Linked DNA regions of Homo sapiens: region 1 is linked to region 2. Evidence: fine-mapped expression QTL. Tissue or cell type: prefrontal cortex. Region 2 holds a variant in brackets; the other region holds the start of a gene. All regions are shown on one strand. Distances are between the middles of the regions.

Region 1 (8,044 bases), 45 kb after region 2:
GCAGGATGTCAGTGTATCATTGTGTCTCCAGCTAGCTACCTGATGCTCAGATAAAGTCCCAGACAAGTGTGGTTGAGAGGTGAGGGCTCTCCCTTCTCCCACACAGCCCTCATCTTGCAACTGCATGCTAAGAACACTGGGGCCCTGATCACCCTTGCCCCAACTCATTAGGCAGTGGTTCTGCACAAGGAAAGGAAAGTCTAGAAGGTGGGCTGCTACACTCCCCACCTTCCCCACAAAATGCTCAGCAACTACAAAGGGTATCACTCAGAGACAAGACTGCCATTATCCCCATCCCCAACTCAAGTCCCCAGGCTCTGAGATTTTGCCTAAAGGAAGAATCAGCCCATAAACAGATAACTCCTAATCTCTTCCCAAAGGAGCTGAATTCATTTGCAACAAAGCATAGAGAAGTTCAAACCTGTCTAGGTGTGGTGGCTCATGATGTAATCCCAGCACTTTGGGAGGCCGAGGCAGGTAGATCATTTGAGGTCAGGAGTTTGAGACCGGCCTGACCAACATGGTGAAACCCCGTCTCTCTACTAAAAATACAAAACAAAAATTAGCTGGGCATGGTGGCACATGCCTGTAATCTCAGCTACTTGGGAGGCTGAGGCAGGAGAATCGCTTGAACTCAGGAGGTGGAGGTTGCAGTGAGCTGAGTCCACGCCACTGTGGTACAGCCTAGGTGACAGAGCGAGACTCCGTCTGGGGGAGAGGGGGTGGAGAGAAGTTCAAACCTAAGGGCACTCTCAGGAACAGTGTAGGTTTTAGTGAAAGTAATTAGGAAGACATTCAAGATACAAGCTAAATTGCAGGCCTGTTCACTTGCAGAAGACAATGGGGATATAAGACAATTAGGAGTAGCTACACTGGAGTCACAAGAAATATGAAAGAAAACCTCAAAAACTACTCCTTCAATGGAGCAAGAATTGAAGTAGTTTGTAAGACAATTTATGCCCAGGGCATTGTTAAAAAACAATAGAGCAATCAGCTAACAATTACTGGAGTTTAACAGCTGTGTGCAGTCATAGAAAGAAAGAGATCCCTACCAAAACCACTGTCATCCCAGGATAAAGGTGGGCATATCCAAAGCTGGAGCTTTGGATTCCTGAGGAGCAATATCAAAGGCTTAACAGTATAGGAGGGAAATAGACTTCACTAAATTGATCCAGCCAGTTGCTAAGCAAATACACAAGCAAACAACAATAAGAAGCCCCAGAAGGTAGGCTGCCAGCTCTTCATTTCTGCAGAGATCTCTGTAACTGATCAGATGGAAAATGATTAGATGGATACTGATCTGCACTTATGTGCAACTTTCTGGTAAATCTAAAAGGAACCCAAAGTAAAATGTTTACTTGATAAAAAAAGAAGAAAAGTTAATAAGCAAATAGCGAGAGAAAGTGAAATTTAAAACTACACAAATGTAGATAGTTCTGGCATTATTTCTAATTGAGATCTAAGGAAACATCATTGAGAAGTGCTAGGATTTGAACGAAGGCATGCTAAATCCAGATCTCCTACTCTTAACCACCTCAATATGCTACCTCTTGATCAAAGGTTAAAGAGAGTATAAAAGTTTATCATGTGGCTGTCATAAAATTTTGACATTTAAAGGAAGTCTAGGCTGGGTGCAGTGGCTCACACCTGTGATCCCAACACTTTGGGAGACCAAGGTGGGTGGATCATTTGAGGTCAGGAGTTTGAGACCAGCCTTGCCAATATGGTGAAACCCTGCCTCTACTAAAAATATAAAAAATAGCCAGGCTTGGTGGTGGTTGCCTGTAGTCCCAGCTACTCAGGAGGCTGAGGCAGGAGTAATCACTTGAACAGAGATGGAGGTTGCAGTGAGCCAAGATCGCACCCCTGCACTTCAGCCTGGGTGACAGAGCAAGACTCTGTCTCAAAAAAGAAAAGAAAAAAATGAAGTCTATAGGCATTCACTGTAAAATTCTTTCAACTTTGAGGTCCTCTATGTGTCCATCTAAAAATATGCTTAAGTCTATTCTCAGTAGCTTTATTCATAACAGCCCTAACTATAATAAAAACCCAAATGTCAATCAACAGGAGAATAAACAAATCATGGTATACTCACATAATGGAACACTACACAGCAATGAAAAAGAACTGCTGCTACATACAATGATGGACAATGATCACAGACATAATGTTCAGTTGAAGAAACCAGAATAAAAAAAGAATACATACTGTACCATTTATATTAAGTTCAAGAATAGAAGCAAAACTAATCAGTGATAATAATAATCAGAGTAATGGTTGGGGATCAGGTAGTTATTGACTAGGAAGGGTCACAGGGAACTTTCTGGAGTACAGGAACAGTTCTATTTCTTGATCTGGATGGTGGTTACATTAGTGTATTTATATGTAAAAATTTGTTGAATAATATTAAGATTTGTGCCCTTAACTGCATGAAGCTATACCTCAACAAAACAGTAAGTCTTTTAAAGAGTCTTCCTGCTTTAAAACAGACCATTGGATGCTTTACTCTGCAGTCTAGATAAATACTCATCAGTCATTTGCCCAAACATGATTGGGTTCAGAAAGGGAATCTTAGGCCAGGTGCAGTGGCTCACGCCTGTAATCCTAGCACTTTGGGAGGCCAAGGCAGGTGGATTGCTTGAGTTCAGGAGTTCAAGACCAGCCTGGGCAACATGGTGAAACCCTGTCTCTACTAAAATACAAAAAATTAGCAGGGCATGGTGGTGCACGCCTGTAGTCCCAGCTACTTGGGAGGCTGAGGCACGAGTACTGCTTGAACCCAGGAGGTGGAGATTGCAGTGAGCCAAGATTGCGTCACTGCACTCCAGCCAGCCTGGGTGACAGAGCAACACTGTCTTTAAAAAAAAAAAGGGGGGAATCGTATATTTCACTTTTTCATTTCTCTGATTTCACAGTCAGCAACTCATGGTGTCAATGATGTCACTAGAGATAGCCTTCATGGGGCCGGGTGTGGTGGCTCATGCCTGTAATCCCAGCACTTTGGGAGGCCAAGGTGGGCAAATCACGAGGTCAGGAGATCGAGACCATCCTGGCCAACACAGTGAAACCCCGGCTTTACTAAAAATAAAAAAATTAGCTGGGCATGGTGGCGCGTGCCTGTAATCCCAGCTACTTGGGAGACTCAGGCAGGAGAATCTCTTGAACCCGGGAGGCGGAGGTTGCAGTGAGCCAATATCGCACCACTGCACTCCAGCCCGGCAATAGAGCAAGACTCTGTCTCAAAAATAAAAAAGAGAGAGAGAGATAGCCTTCGGGGCACAAAGTAAAAGTTGCAAAGACCACTGCACGGGCTCTCTTCTCCCATGTGTTCCCACTTCATGCTCCAGGCCTCTGGGCTGCTGGGAATGCAAGAAGCACTTTAACTGGGAAGTCATCAACCTCAATTTTGCCAACAAACTTAAAGGAGTGGAAAAGTTCCCCATGGCATCACCACCATCATAAAGGAGAGTGCTCCCACCACTTTAGAAAGGTTCTCAAATTTGGTTTTCAGACAAGAGCCCTCAGTCACATACATATATCTCATTAAATAAGCAGATGTTTTACTTATTTAACAGGCATCAAATTTTTTGCTTGAGTCCAGATTTAGTGACTGATCCATAAAGTGGAAACAAAGAACAAACAGTATGATTGTTCAGAAAGCAGGATGAACATTTCTCTCCAATAAGGTACCATTTTGTGAGCTCATAGTCCTTGAATACTGAAAATGATGAAAGGAAAAGGAATATTTTATATGCAAAAAGGTAGCATAAGGAGGTGTTCCGATTAGGTGTGATCGACCTAAAAGATTAATGAAACAACAAACCCATCAAAAACGACTACAATTGACAGAAAGCTAGAAACATTAACGGCGTTGGAAAGCTCAAATGACAGAAGTTCACAAATTCTTAATCATCTAATCCAGGCCTCTCCTCATTACCATTCAGACCACTCACAAAGATCCCATTAAATCAGCTCATAATCAGGTTTACAAAAATAAGACTCCTTAAGAGATGTGGCAATGTGAGAAGTGGAGCACGTACACAGGCACAGCAAATGACTACGTTAGTGAAAACTGTAGGGTTTATCATAAGCAAAATGACAGTGCTCTCCTCCGTGAAAAAGAGAAAGAAATCGGACGGGTCTCCTTTAAGTGAAAATAGAGACTGTGAGAACATAAAGACATTGCTGACATCTGTGTTTTAACATTCCATTTATTTAAGGAAAGAGGAGAAAGAAATGTTTGGAATATAAATAAACCCTTCCCTATAGGAAGGTCAGAAATGTAGAAATACGCAGAAGCTGGTGGGAGCAAAAGCCGATCCTGAGACAAGGATATCTAGAGAGGTAGCCCTGGTCGGGATGTGGGAAGAGGCCTGCGAAGAAACAGCAGAACCAAGGGAAAGAAAGGGAAGAACGTCAGGTCCACTGCTCATCCCGAGCGCCTAGAACTGCGCCAGACTCCTGGCATGCGCACAGGACACTGAAGGAAGGGATGAGCTTTTCGGCTAGCGTATTGTCTTTGAGCGACAGAGCGGGATTCCCAAACGTCCCCGCCGGTCACTCAGCTCCTGCAGTTCATGCCTAGCAAGAACCTTGCGGGCGGTCCGAGGCTGCCATCCTTTCACAGCTGTATTTGGGGGCAAAAATAGGGTAACGAAGCCGGGGGCCCAGACTTACTTTTGCAGCCGGGTGCCATAGCGCCCTCACCCCTCGATCCCGAAAACAATGCAGCCGGTGCCTCCACCTCCCGACTGCACCGCGCGCGACTGAATTCCGCCCGCTCAAGATGGCCGCAAATTTGAATTTGGCGCTTGGATCGGACGTTGACGCCCGCATGGAGGCCGCCATGTTGCCCGGCCTACGCATCGGGGGCGTGGCCCAGTGACGTCACAGCTAAGCGCCTCTGTATCGTCGCGAATCCGTCGCGGAACCTGTCTTCTGTCTTTACCCAGAGCTACCATGAGCAAGCGGAACCAGGTATCGTACGTGCGGCCAGCCGAGCCGGCGTTTCTGGCCCGCTTCAAGGAACGGGTCGGCTACAGGGAGGGACCCACCGTAGAGACTAAGGTGAGCCTTCGCCAGTCGTGTTTCTTCGGAAGCGCAGCCAGCCCGCCACTTTCAACTTTTGCCTCTACTTGGAGGGTGGGTGCTGTCGGGTCCCTCTTTTCACCCGCGCTCGAACCCAATTCCGGTGGAACTCGGACCCCCAGGCTGGTTCTTTTCAAGCGACCACAGCCCCCTACGCCCAGGAAGCTCTGTAGTTTTCAGAGCGCTGCTGTGTTCCTGAAAATGAACTGACGTGTAAACCACCTGGTCCTTGGTAGATGGTAAAGAAAGATCACTTTATTGTCTCTTCTTTCTCACTTGTTTACCTCAAAAGCTGTGAGTTCGCAGGGTGAGTTAGAGTTACAGCGTCGTCCCGTATTCCAGATAAGGACACAGGCCACTCGATCAAATGACCCCCGCCCCAACCATGTCCTAGGACTCGAGTCTGGAACGTCTTCGGAGGAATGTCCTGAATCTGTTTCTATGCTTTGTTAATTAAAAATAAATAAAAATAATATAGAGAAGGTCGGGCACAGTGGCTCACGCCTGTAATCCCAGTACTTTGGGAGGCCTAGGTGGGCGGATCACCTGAGGTCAGGAGTTCGAGACCAGCAGAGCCAATAGCCAATATGGTGAAACCCCCCGTCTCTGCTAAAAATACAAAAATTAGCCGGGCATGGTGGCACATGCCTGTAGTCCCAGCTACTCCGGAGGCTGAGACAGAATCGCTCGAACCCGGGAGGTGGACGTTGCAGTGAGTTGAGATGGCGCAGCTGCACTCCAGCCTGGACAACAGAGCGAGACTCCGTCTCAAAAAAAAAAAAAAAAAGCCGGGCCTGGTGGCTCACGCCTGTAATCCCAGCGCTCTGGGAGGCTGAGGCGGCAGATCACGAGGTCAGGAGATCGAGACCATCCTGGCTAAAACAGTGAAACCGCGTCTCTACTAAAAATACAAAAAATTAGCCAGGCATGGTGGCGGGCGCCTGTAGTCCCAGCTACTCGGGAGGCTGAGGCAGGAGAATGGCGTGAACCCAGGAGGAGGAGCTTGCAGTGAGCCGAGATCGCGCCACTGCACTCCAGACTGGGCGACAGAGCGAGACTCCGTCTCAAAAAAAAGAAAAAAAAGAAGAGTAAGCAGAAGCCGTAAATATCCTGGGTCTAAATAGAAGAAGAGGAGCTTCAGGAAAGAGCCACACCTGACTATTGTTGTCTAGGGCCGGAGGGATCAGTATTGAACACATGAATGACAAGAAAGCAAAACAGCTACATTGCTGATACAGAGAAAGTTTTAGTGGTCTGGATAGAAGAGCAAACCAGCCACAACATTCCCTTTAACCAAAGCCTAATCTAGAGCAAGGCCCTAACTCTTAAATCCTGTGAAGTCTGAGACATGTGAGAAAGCTGCAGAAGAAAAGTGTGAAGCTAACAGAGGTTGGTTCATGAGGTTTAAGGAAAGAAGCCATCTCCATAACATAAAAGTATGAGATGAAGAAGCAAATTATTCAGATCTAGCTAAGATAGTTGATGAAGGTGGCTACACTAAACAGGTTTTCAATGTAGATGAAACAGCCTTCTATTGGAAGAAGATGCCATCTAGGACTTTTTTTTTTTTTTTTTTTTTGAGATAGGGTCTCACTCTGTCGCCCAGGCTAGAGTGCAGTGGTGCAATCACAGCTCACTGCAGCCTTGACCTCCTGGGCTCAAGTGATCCTCCTGCCTCAGCCTCTCAAGCAGCTGGGACTACAGGCATGAACTAACGCATCTGGCTAATTTTTGTATTTTTTTGTAGAGACAGGATTCCACTGTGTTGCCAAGGCTGGTCTCAAACTCCTGGACTCAAGCAATCCTCCCACTTTAGCCTCTCAAAGCCTCTCAAAAACCACTATGCCTGGGCCATTTAGGACTTTCATAGCTAGAGAGAAGTCAGTGCCTGGCTTCATATTTTCAAAGGACAGGCTAACTCTCTCATTAGGAGCTAATGCAGCTGGTGACTTTTAAGTTGAAGCTAATACTTACCATTCCAAAAATCCTAGGGTCCGTAAGAATTATGCTAAATCTACTCTGCCTGTGCTCTAGAAATGGAAAAACAAAACCTTGATGACAGCACATCTCTTTATAATATGGTTTACTGAATTATTTTTAGCCCACTGTTGAGACCTACTGCTCAGAAAAAAAAAGATTCTTTCAATATATTATTGCTCATGGACAATACACTTGGTCACCCAAGAACTCTGATGGAGATCTACAAGGAGATTAACGTGGGGTTTTCATGCCTGCTAACACAACATCCATTCTGCAGCCCATGGATCAAGGAGTAATTTCTATTTTCAGTCTTATTATTTAAGAAATAACAGCCAGGCGCAATGGCTCACACTTGTAATCCCAGCACTTTGGGAAGTCAAGGCAGGTGGATTGCTTGAGCCCAGGAGTTCAAGACCAGCCTGGCCAACATGGTGAGACCCCATCTCTACAAAAAATACAAAATTTAGCCCAGTGTGGTGGCATGCACCTGTGGTCCCAGCTACTTGGGAGGCTGAGGTGGGAGGATTCCCTGACCCCAGGTAGGTTGAGGCTGCAGTCAGCCATGATTGCACCACTGCACTCGAGCCTGGGTAACAGAGCCAGACCCTGTCTCAAAAAAAAAAAAAAAAGTCAAAACCATTTGTAAGGCTACAGCTGCCATGGATAGTGATTCCTCTGATGCATCTGGATATTGTAAATTGAAAACTTTATGGAAAGGCTTCACCATTCTAAACACGTTAAGAACATCCATGATTCATGGGAAGAGGGCAAAATATCAACATTAACAGGAATTTGGAAGAGGTTGATTCCAACCTTCATGGATGACTTCGAGAGATTCAGGCCTTCAGTGGAGGAAGTAATTGCAGGTGTGGTAGAACAAGCAAAAGAACTAGAATTAGAAGTAGAGCCTGAAAATGTGACTAAGTTGTTGCAGTCTCATAAAAATTGAACAGATGAGTTGCTTCTTATTGATGAG
Region 2 (8,261 bases):
GGTTTGGGGTGGTCTGGCCCACTCCAACTTTTACTGGACAGTAGAAAACCTTTTTAAAAAATTAACAAACCATAAAAATTCTGGAATAATCAAATTTCACATTATTTCAAATATATTAAAAACTGTCTAAAATTTGATCTATAATAAGATTCTTTTAACTTTCTTTTTTTTTGAGACAGAGTTTCACTCTTGTTGCCCAGGCTAGAGTGCAGTGGCGCGATCTCGGCTCACTGCAACCTCCGCCTCCCGGGTTCAAGCAATTCTCCTGCCTCAGCCTCCCGAGTAGCTGGGATTACAGGCATGTACCACCACACCCGGCTAATTTTGTCTATTTAGTAGAGACGGGGTTTCACCATGTTGGTCAGGCTAGTCTCAAACTCTTGATCTCACGTGATATGCCTGCCTCAGCCTCCCAAAGTGCTGGGATTACAGGCGTGAGCCACCGCACCCGGCCTCTTTTAACTTTTTTTAGCAGATACAGCACTTTGCTATATAAACCAGTTCTGGAACTTGGAGCTAGTGGCCAACTGGTCATTTTATACACTAAGGAACAAAAACCCATGGAGAATGACTTGCTAAAGATTGTAAAGTAGAGACAAAAAGCAAGAGTGGGCTGATTTCCAATCTAGGAATGATTATAAACCCACACTTAAAAAGATATGATTTTAATACTAAGCACTTTTGAACACTGTAACTTATAGGGAATTAAAATAACAAAGCAAATGTATTTAAATGGATGTCCAGTTATTTATTTTTTCTAGAACAAAACATTACCTGCACTGTTCTAAGCTCTTCAGAAATGGCCTCAAAAGCTTGTTCATTCATCTCAGGAGGAACTGGCTCATTTAATATATCATTATCTAATATGCTAGAATTCTGAGTGTATAGAGAGCCAAAGCTTCCCATTTCAGGGCTTAATTTTGGTACTGGTCGGGAATGAAGTTGGTAGGCCTTGGTTGGTGTAGTTATAATCTGCAGCAAAAAATGATTATGGAAAACATTAGCACATATTTAAAAAGGGCATATTTAATAATTTTGTGAATAGAGAGGATAAAATTGAAATACTATTCATGAAAAGAAAGGAAAAAGTACCCTTGAGACACAGTACAAAAATGCCCAAGTGGAAATAAATTTATCAATTCAATGCAGTCCCAAGCAAAATTCTAATACAATTTTTAAAAATAAACTTAATGAGCTGATATCTATTTTCATACAAAGAATAAATGTACAAGAAGAGACAAGACAATTAAAAAGAACAAGCCAGGCATGGTGGTTCATGGCTATAATCCCAACACCGTGGGAGGCTGAGAAGGGGAGGATCACTTGAGGCCAGGAGTCCAAGACCAGGCTGGGCAACATAGTGAGATCCTGTCTCTACCAAAAAAAAAAATCATTTTAATTAGCTGGGCATGGTGTCCCAGGCCTGTAGTCCCAGCTACTTGGGAAGCTGAGGCAGGAGGATCCCCAGAGCCCAGGTGTTCTAGGTTGCAGTGAGCTATTATCACACCATTGCACTCCAGCCTGAGTGACAGACTGAGACCCTGTCTCTCAAAAAAATAAAAATAAAAAGAACAAATTAGGAAGACTTCCCCATCTGATATAAAAATACATAGGGGTATGGGAGTATGGTCATTAAAATAGTACATTACATTACAGTACATTATATTAAAACAGTACATTAGCTTATGTACATTCAAATAGAACACTGGGAGGAAATACAAAGTCCAGAAATAGAATTATTATTATTTTTTGAGACACAGTCTTGTTCTGTTGCCCAGGCTGGAGTGCAGTGGTGTAATCTTGGCTCACCACAACCTCTGCCTCCCAGGTTCAAGCAATTCTCCTGCCTCAGCCTCCCAAGTAGCTGGGACTACAGGCACACACCACCATGCCTGGTTAATTTTTGTAGTTTTAGTAGAGATGGGGTTTCACCATGTTGGCCAGGCTGGTCTCCAACTCCTGGCCTCAAGTGATCTGCCCGCTTTGGCCTCCCAAAGTGCTAGAATTACAGGCGTGAGACACCACACCCCGCCCAGAAATAGAATAATCTTTCTGTGGAAATTTTAGGTATCAGGAGTAGTTGAGACCAAAGGTGCACACCACCATGCTTGGCTAATTTAAATTTTTTTTTTTTTTGCAGAGGTAGGGTCTTACTATGTTGCCCAAGCTGGTCTTGAACTCCTAGATTCAAGCAATCCTCCTGCTTCTGCCTCCCCAAGTGTTAAGATTACAGGTGTGAGCCACTATGCCTAGCTGTATTACTTTTTTTAAGTTAAATCCCTTTCTCATACCATTCAAAAGAAAAACAGTGGATACACAAACACCTCAATGTAAAGCAAAATTAAAGGCAAAAAAGTCATAAAGATAAAAGGTCAATAAACCTGGCTACATCAAAAATATAAAACTTCTATATAACAAAAGCATCACATGCAAAGATGAAAGACAAGCAACATGATGGAGGAATATATTGGCAGTACACCTAACAAACAAATGCTTATTACATAAAAACAAAATCTGAAGAAAAATATAAAAAAACAATAGTTTTTCTTTTCAGGGAATAGGATATACAAATGGACATGAACATATGAAAAGATATTTGAAATTAGAGAAATGAGAATTAAAACCTTAACAACAAGATCTCATTTTTTACCCATCAGATGGTCAAACATTAACAAGCATGACAATCCCAGTTCCTGCGGACAGTGCTGGGAAAGGAGTGCATCTATGCATCTATGCTGCGGGAACAGGGCACTAGGAGGGAGCTTCAGCTTGACTCACTCAAATGCTAAGACATCCTAAAATGACCACTTCTCCTTTAACGGAATCCACCCCCAGAGAATGCACGCACTGGAAACCATCTACTTAAGCCATAGAAACCTAGGGTTAAAATGAGGTAGGTACCAGTTAATATGGAAAGATCCAAGGCATATCCCCCAAGGGGATATCCCTCATGGTGCTTCAAGCTCTATAATTCAAGCTCTATAATTCTTCTGTCCCTCAAAGGAGATGCCTTGGATCTTTCCACATTAACTGGTATGAGGCTCATAACCCTTGAGCCTCACGTTAACTGGTATGAGGCTCATATTCCTTGAGCCTCACATCCAAATGAGGCTCTAGGTACCAGTTAATGTGGAAAGATCTAAGGCATATCCCTGAGTTAACAAAAGCATATTGTGGAATAACACATGAAGAATGACCGTTTTTTTT[T/A]AAAAAAAAAAAAAAAAGCAAAACAATACACAATCTAGGAAACAACTCTATGTGTTTTCTCAGTCTGTATATATTAACAGTACAAAAATGCTAAGAAAAAGGATTAAACTACCTCCAGGGATTGTGGGGACAAAGGATTATATTAGATCCAGATTGGAAGTGATGCTGAAAAGGAATTTTAACTTTAACTTGAAATATGTGTCTTTCTTTTAAACAAAGAGAATGTATTCATATAGTAGTTGTCCAACTAAAACAACAACAAAGACTCTGAATTGCTATGCCCCTCCTGGCAAACCTAATCCTCTGAGTCCTGTTTGCTCAGTCATAAAAGGAAGAAGTAGGACGAGAATGCCGTGGTGCTTCAAGCTCTATAATTCCATTGTGCTAAGGGGCTACAGACACAGAATTATAAAACATTTGGCAGTATTCTGCAAGTATTTTTCAATAATTTCTTACAAAAACTTCAAAGACCACCTTTTTTAAAAAGCAACAGTAAAAAAAAATTCTGGTCAGGCATGGTGGCTCACACCTGTAATCCTAGTGCTCTGGGAGGCTGAGGCTCCAGGAGGATCACTTGAAGCCAGGAGTTCAAGGCTGCAGTGAGCCATGATCATGCCACTGCACTCCAGCCTGAGTGACAGAGCAAGACTCTGTCTCTAAAAAACAAAACCAAAAATAAATAAATAAAATAAATCAAAATTTAAAAATAATTTTTAAATTTCTACCTGTATAGGAAAAAACCCAGCATTTTCCAGGTTGAATAAATCATTATATATCCACATAACATTCTTGAGCTGCTGCCAAAACAAATAAAAAATCAAAACAGAAACAAAAAGGGGGAGAACATTTTTTCCCCTGCAGACATGGGACAAACTCTAAAATATTGCTTTAAAACACACACACACACACACACACCCTCAAGCTGTAGAATGATGTGTATGTTATGCCACCATTTGTGTAAAGTGAGAAAATACTTGGTGACATTGATTGACTTGGTGACACTGATTGCCTCCAGTTCTTGGTTGGCTGGAAGAACAACAGAAGGAAAGAGATTTGCTACTAAATGCCTTTGAAAATTTCAGTCACAGGCTGGGCGCGGTGGCTCACACCTATAATCCCAGCACTTTGGGAGGCGAGACGGGCGGATCACCTGAGGTCAGGAGTTCGAGACTAGCCTGGCCAACATGGTGAAACCTCGTCTCTACTAAAAATACAAAAATCAGCTGGGTGTTGGGGCAGGCGCCTGGAATCCCAACTACTCGGGAGGCAGAGGCAGGAGAATCGCTTGAACCCAGGAAGCAGAGGTTGCAGTGAGCCAAGATCGTGCCACTGCACTCCAACCTGGGCAACAAGAGCAAAACTCCGTCTCAAAAAAAAAAGAAAAGAAAGGAAATTTCAGTCACATAAATTACCTATTCAAATGAATACAAGTAGTCTTCCATTAAGTGACACAAAAAGCACCACTACTAAAAATAATCATTATAAATAAACATCTATTTATATTCTAAGACATATAAGGAAAGGTTTTCGGTCTTCTCTATTTCTTTCTTTTATTGAAAAGAACTTGAGGCCAGCGCAGTGGCTCTTGCCTGTAATCCTAGCACTTTGGGAGGCCGAGGCAGGCAGATCACGAGGTCATGAGTTCGAGACCAGCCTGGCCAACATGGCGAAACCCCATCTCTACTGAAAATACAAAAATTATCCGGGCATGGTGGCAGGCGCCTGTAATCCCAGCTACTCGGGAGGCTGAGGCAGGAGAATCGCTTGAACCTGGGAGGCGGAGGTTGCAGTGAGCTGAGATTGCACCACTGCACTCCAGCCTGGCCGACAGAGCAAGACTCTGTCTTAAAAAAAAGAAAAGAAAAGAAAAGAACTTGAATTCAAGCTGGACTTGAATTCCTGGGCTCAAGCAATCCTCTTGCCTCAACCTCCCAAACAGCCGGGACTACAGGCCTGCACCACCACACCCAGCTAAGGAAAAAATTTTTTAACCTTCAAAAAATTGGATACAAAAGCTGAAATCAGTATCACCTCCTCAACCTTTTGTTTTCCTTGTGTACTTCCTTTCTCTCTCCTCATTCTCAGTTGTTCACACATTTTTTTTTCTTTTATGAGGGATGTGGTTATTTAGGACAAAACCCTCTCATGTTATTTCCAGTGGCACCTGTGATCCCTTAGCGGTCTTTGCCCATTAGGGTTTCTATTCTACTGAAAACTTTGAGGACATGTTATATTGTAGTAATAGCTGCCATTTTACTGATATCTACAAGGTACCAGGCAGCTTATCTATCTCATTTAGTACTCTAAAACTCTGCAAGTAAATTACCTTCATTTCCAATTTAGAGAAAAGAAAGATAAGGCTCAGAAGTTAGGAAACCCTGACTAAAGTTAATGGCACATTCGAATTTGATTGCAAATGCTGAATTCTTTCCTACCCCACCCTACCACTGGGGGGATACATCAGTGGGATTGCTAGCAGTAACCCAAAGACCAGTGTGACACCGGTGTTAATTACCTGCATGGGATGTCATCTGCATCTGGAGATAGACCATGCAGACTCTCTCCATTATTAATAAAATGACATTGCACTGATTTAAGGTGGAGGTATTGTTCAGATGACCTACCTTAAGTGTTTCAGCATGAATTTTATTCAGCTGAGAAACTTCTTGCCGCTTGCAGGCTTTTGTTGCTTCCAAAAGGTTTTCAAGATTAAGGTTCGCTTTTTGCAAAGACTGAAGCTCTGATTCCAATTCTAGCTGCCTTTTCCTAATAGATATTGTAAAACGGAGTATTTCAGGTAATAAGTAATGTCAAACATTTATAGAATACTTTACAGTTTATGCTCTCACATAACTTTATAGTTATCTCTAAATCAGAGATATTCTCTATTCTCTCAGATTATTCCCATCATTCTCCAGTTCAGTAAACTACAGCTCAGAGACTGTTTAAGGGATTCAACTAGTAAATGGTAGGGCTCAAATTCAAAAGCCCAAACAAATAGTCCATGATTATACCATATGTGATATGTCATTTTTGAACCAAACATTTGTTTATATTTTAGGGTAAGATTGATCTTAGTTATAATATGAATGTGATTTATCTTTGTTTTTACATAGTGAGAATCAAGTAGGAATATTAACAAACCTATACTTCCTAAAAGTCTTAACAACTCTGATTATCAAATTTAAATTTAAATAATTTACTATGCAAGTTCAATAGACTCTCAACAGGAAAAAACTGCTTAAAACACCTGTATTACCTAGTTCATTGAATATATTAGTAAAGAGCTAGAAGCATGCTCTTTCTCTTCATGTCAAAGTAGTTGCTGCTATGAGAGTTTAATATTTAAAGTAAAATGCCCAATTGAATTATCGATATTAACACTACAGCAAATGAACACTGAAAGAAAATAAGTGTGCATGCATGTGTATTTAGACTTTACCTAGTAAGTTCTTTGAATTCTTCATATTCTTGCTTTGAATTATTCAGCTCTGTCTGAATTTGCAGGAGTTGTGCTTTTAACTTCTCAGTGTTTGCAAACAAACATGGCTCTTTCTGAGCTTTAGGTGAAAATCCTTGCTGATCTGTTAATAAGAAAACAATCTCAGTCTTTTTTTTTTTTTTTCTGAGACAGGGCCTCACTATGTTGCCCAGGCTAGAGTGCAGTGGCTATTCACAAGCATGATCATAGTGTACTAAAGCCCCAAATTCTGGTCTCAAGTGAACCCCCTGCTTTAGCCTCCCAAATAGTTGGGACTACAGGTGCATGCCACCATGCCTAGCTTTACAACTTCAGTGTTTGACAAGCAAAAATAACAGGACACATTTTCTAAGTTCTCTGTCAGGTATCAATTTTGGGCCACAAGGAGGAAAAGTGAGAAATGGGTTGGAAAGCGAGCCCTAAAATACAAAAGCTTATAACTCAGCAGAAGGCACAGGATGTGACACAGTGTGCCAAAGGGGATTAGAAGTCATGTTTAAGAAGCAGATGCCACAGGATGGAGAAGTGTAGTTAAGGCAACACCTTTCCCATTAGGAGAAAGAACAAACAATGACGAAAGTGTGGCACGCCTAATGCTAGACAGAGAAACAGCAGCCAGTGAATCTTGTAGGAATTAGTGCTAGCAGCTAATGTTAACAGCCAAGGAATTATTTAGAAAAGGAAACAAATAGCAAGGGCAGCAGGTTGTAAGAACCCGGTATCATCTATCAGGTAGAAAATATTAATTTTCAGGAAATGCCTAGAACACTGAATATGTTGAAGAGAGTCCACTGAGTTTCAGTGTGGGAAAAGATCATGTAAAAGTTGTTTAGAGAATGATCAATGTTTAGAAACTGATGAGATCCAGACATTAGTATCTTCTGAAGGGAGTAAGTCAAGGTATTATGGAGGCCACAACAAAATGGCCAACAAAATAAAGGGCACTGTAGGGAAAAGTAGTTTAAATAAAACAGAAAACCTAAGTCAGGCGTTGGGGCTCACATCTGTAATCCCAGCACTTTGGGAGGCCGAAGTGGGTGGATCATTTGAAGCCAGAAGTTCAAGACCAGCCTGGCCAACATGGTGAAACCCCATCTCTACCAAAAATACAAAAATTGGCTCGGTGTGGTGGTGTGTGACTGTAATCCCAGGAGGGAGCCTGAGGCAGGAGAATTGCTTGAATCCAGGAGGTGGAGGTTGCAGTGAGCCGAGATCGCACCACTGCACTACAGCCTGGGTGACAGAGTGAGACTCCATCTCAAAAAAAACAACAGAAAACCTGATAGTAATTTTGCATCTAATATCTTAAGTCTCTCCCCAACCCAGTTACTGTGACTCTTATTATTCTATTCAGTCATAACAGAATGGAAGAAGGCTTAAAAAATGAAATTTTAAAAAGCAAAGAGACAGTCTTCTTTATGAATGCAGAATAAAAACATTAGAACTTTTTCAATTTCAACCTAAAAGGAAACCAAGGCCAAGTCTATGATAAAAGACCGTGAAAATATTAACTCTAAGACTGGGGCAAACACAGACTTTGTTACCAAATCCCAGGGTATGAACACCAACAGCT

Which allele goes with the higher level. Alleles are on the strand shown, and positions count from the first base shown. SD is a standard deviation of normalised expression in the study named.
For the expression in prefrontal cortex of the gene that starts at base 4,768 in region 1, allele A in region 2 goes with a lower level than allele T (small effect, 0.33 SD a copy in ROSMAP).

Evidence for each region. PIP is the estimated chance that this variant, and not a neighbour inherited with it, causes the effect.
Region 1: KIF15 starts here. The variant in region 2 is fine-mapped to the expression of KIF15 in prefrontal cortex (ROSMAP, PIP 0.95).

Annotation. Positions count from the first base shown.
Region 1 is chr3:44,758,518-44,766,561 of GRCh38, reverse strand. It overlaps KIF15 (kinesin family member 15), which reads right to left and starts at 4,768. Exons shown (of 35, transcript NM_020242.3): 1 at 4,678-4,768. The coding sequence starts at 4,696. It overlaps KIAA1143, which reads left to right and starts at 4,943. Exons shown (of 3, transcript NM_020696.4): 1 at 4,943-5,067. The coding sequence starts at 4,960. RefSeq lists enhancers at 4,718-4,997, 5,788-6,430.
Region 2 is chr3:44,803,557-44,811,817 of GRCh38, reverse strand. It overlaps KIF15 (kinesin family member 15), which reads right to left. Exons shown (of 35, transcript NM_020242.3): 15 at 6,650-6,791; 16 at 5,832-5,973; 17 at 775-972. Among named protein-coding and RNA genes, the nearest start is that of KIF15, 46 kb to the right of the region's middle. The variant T/A (reference allele first, on the strand shown) is at 3,208.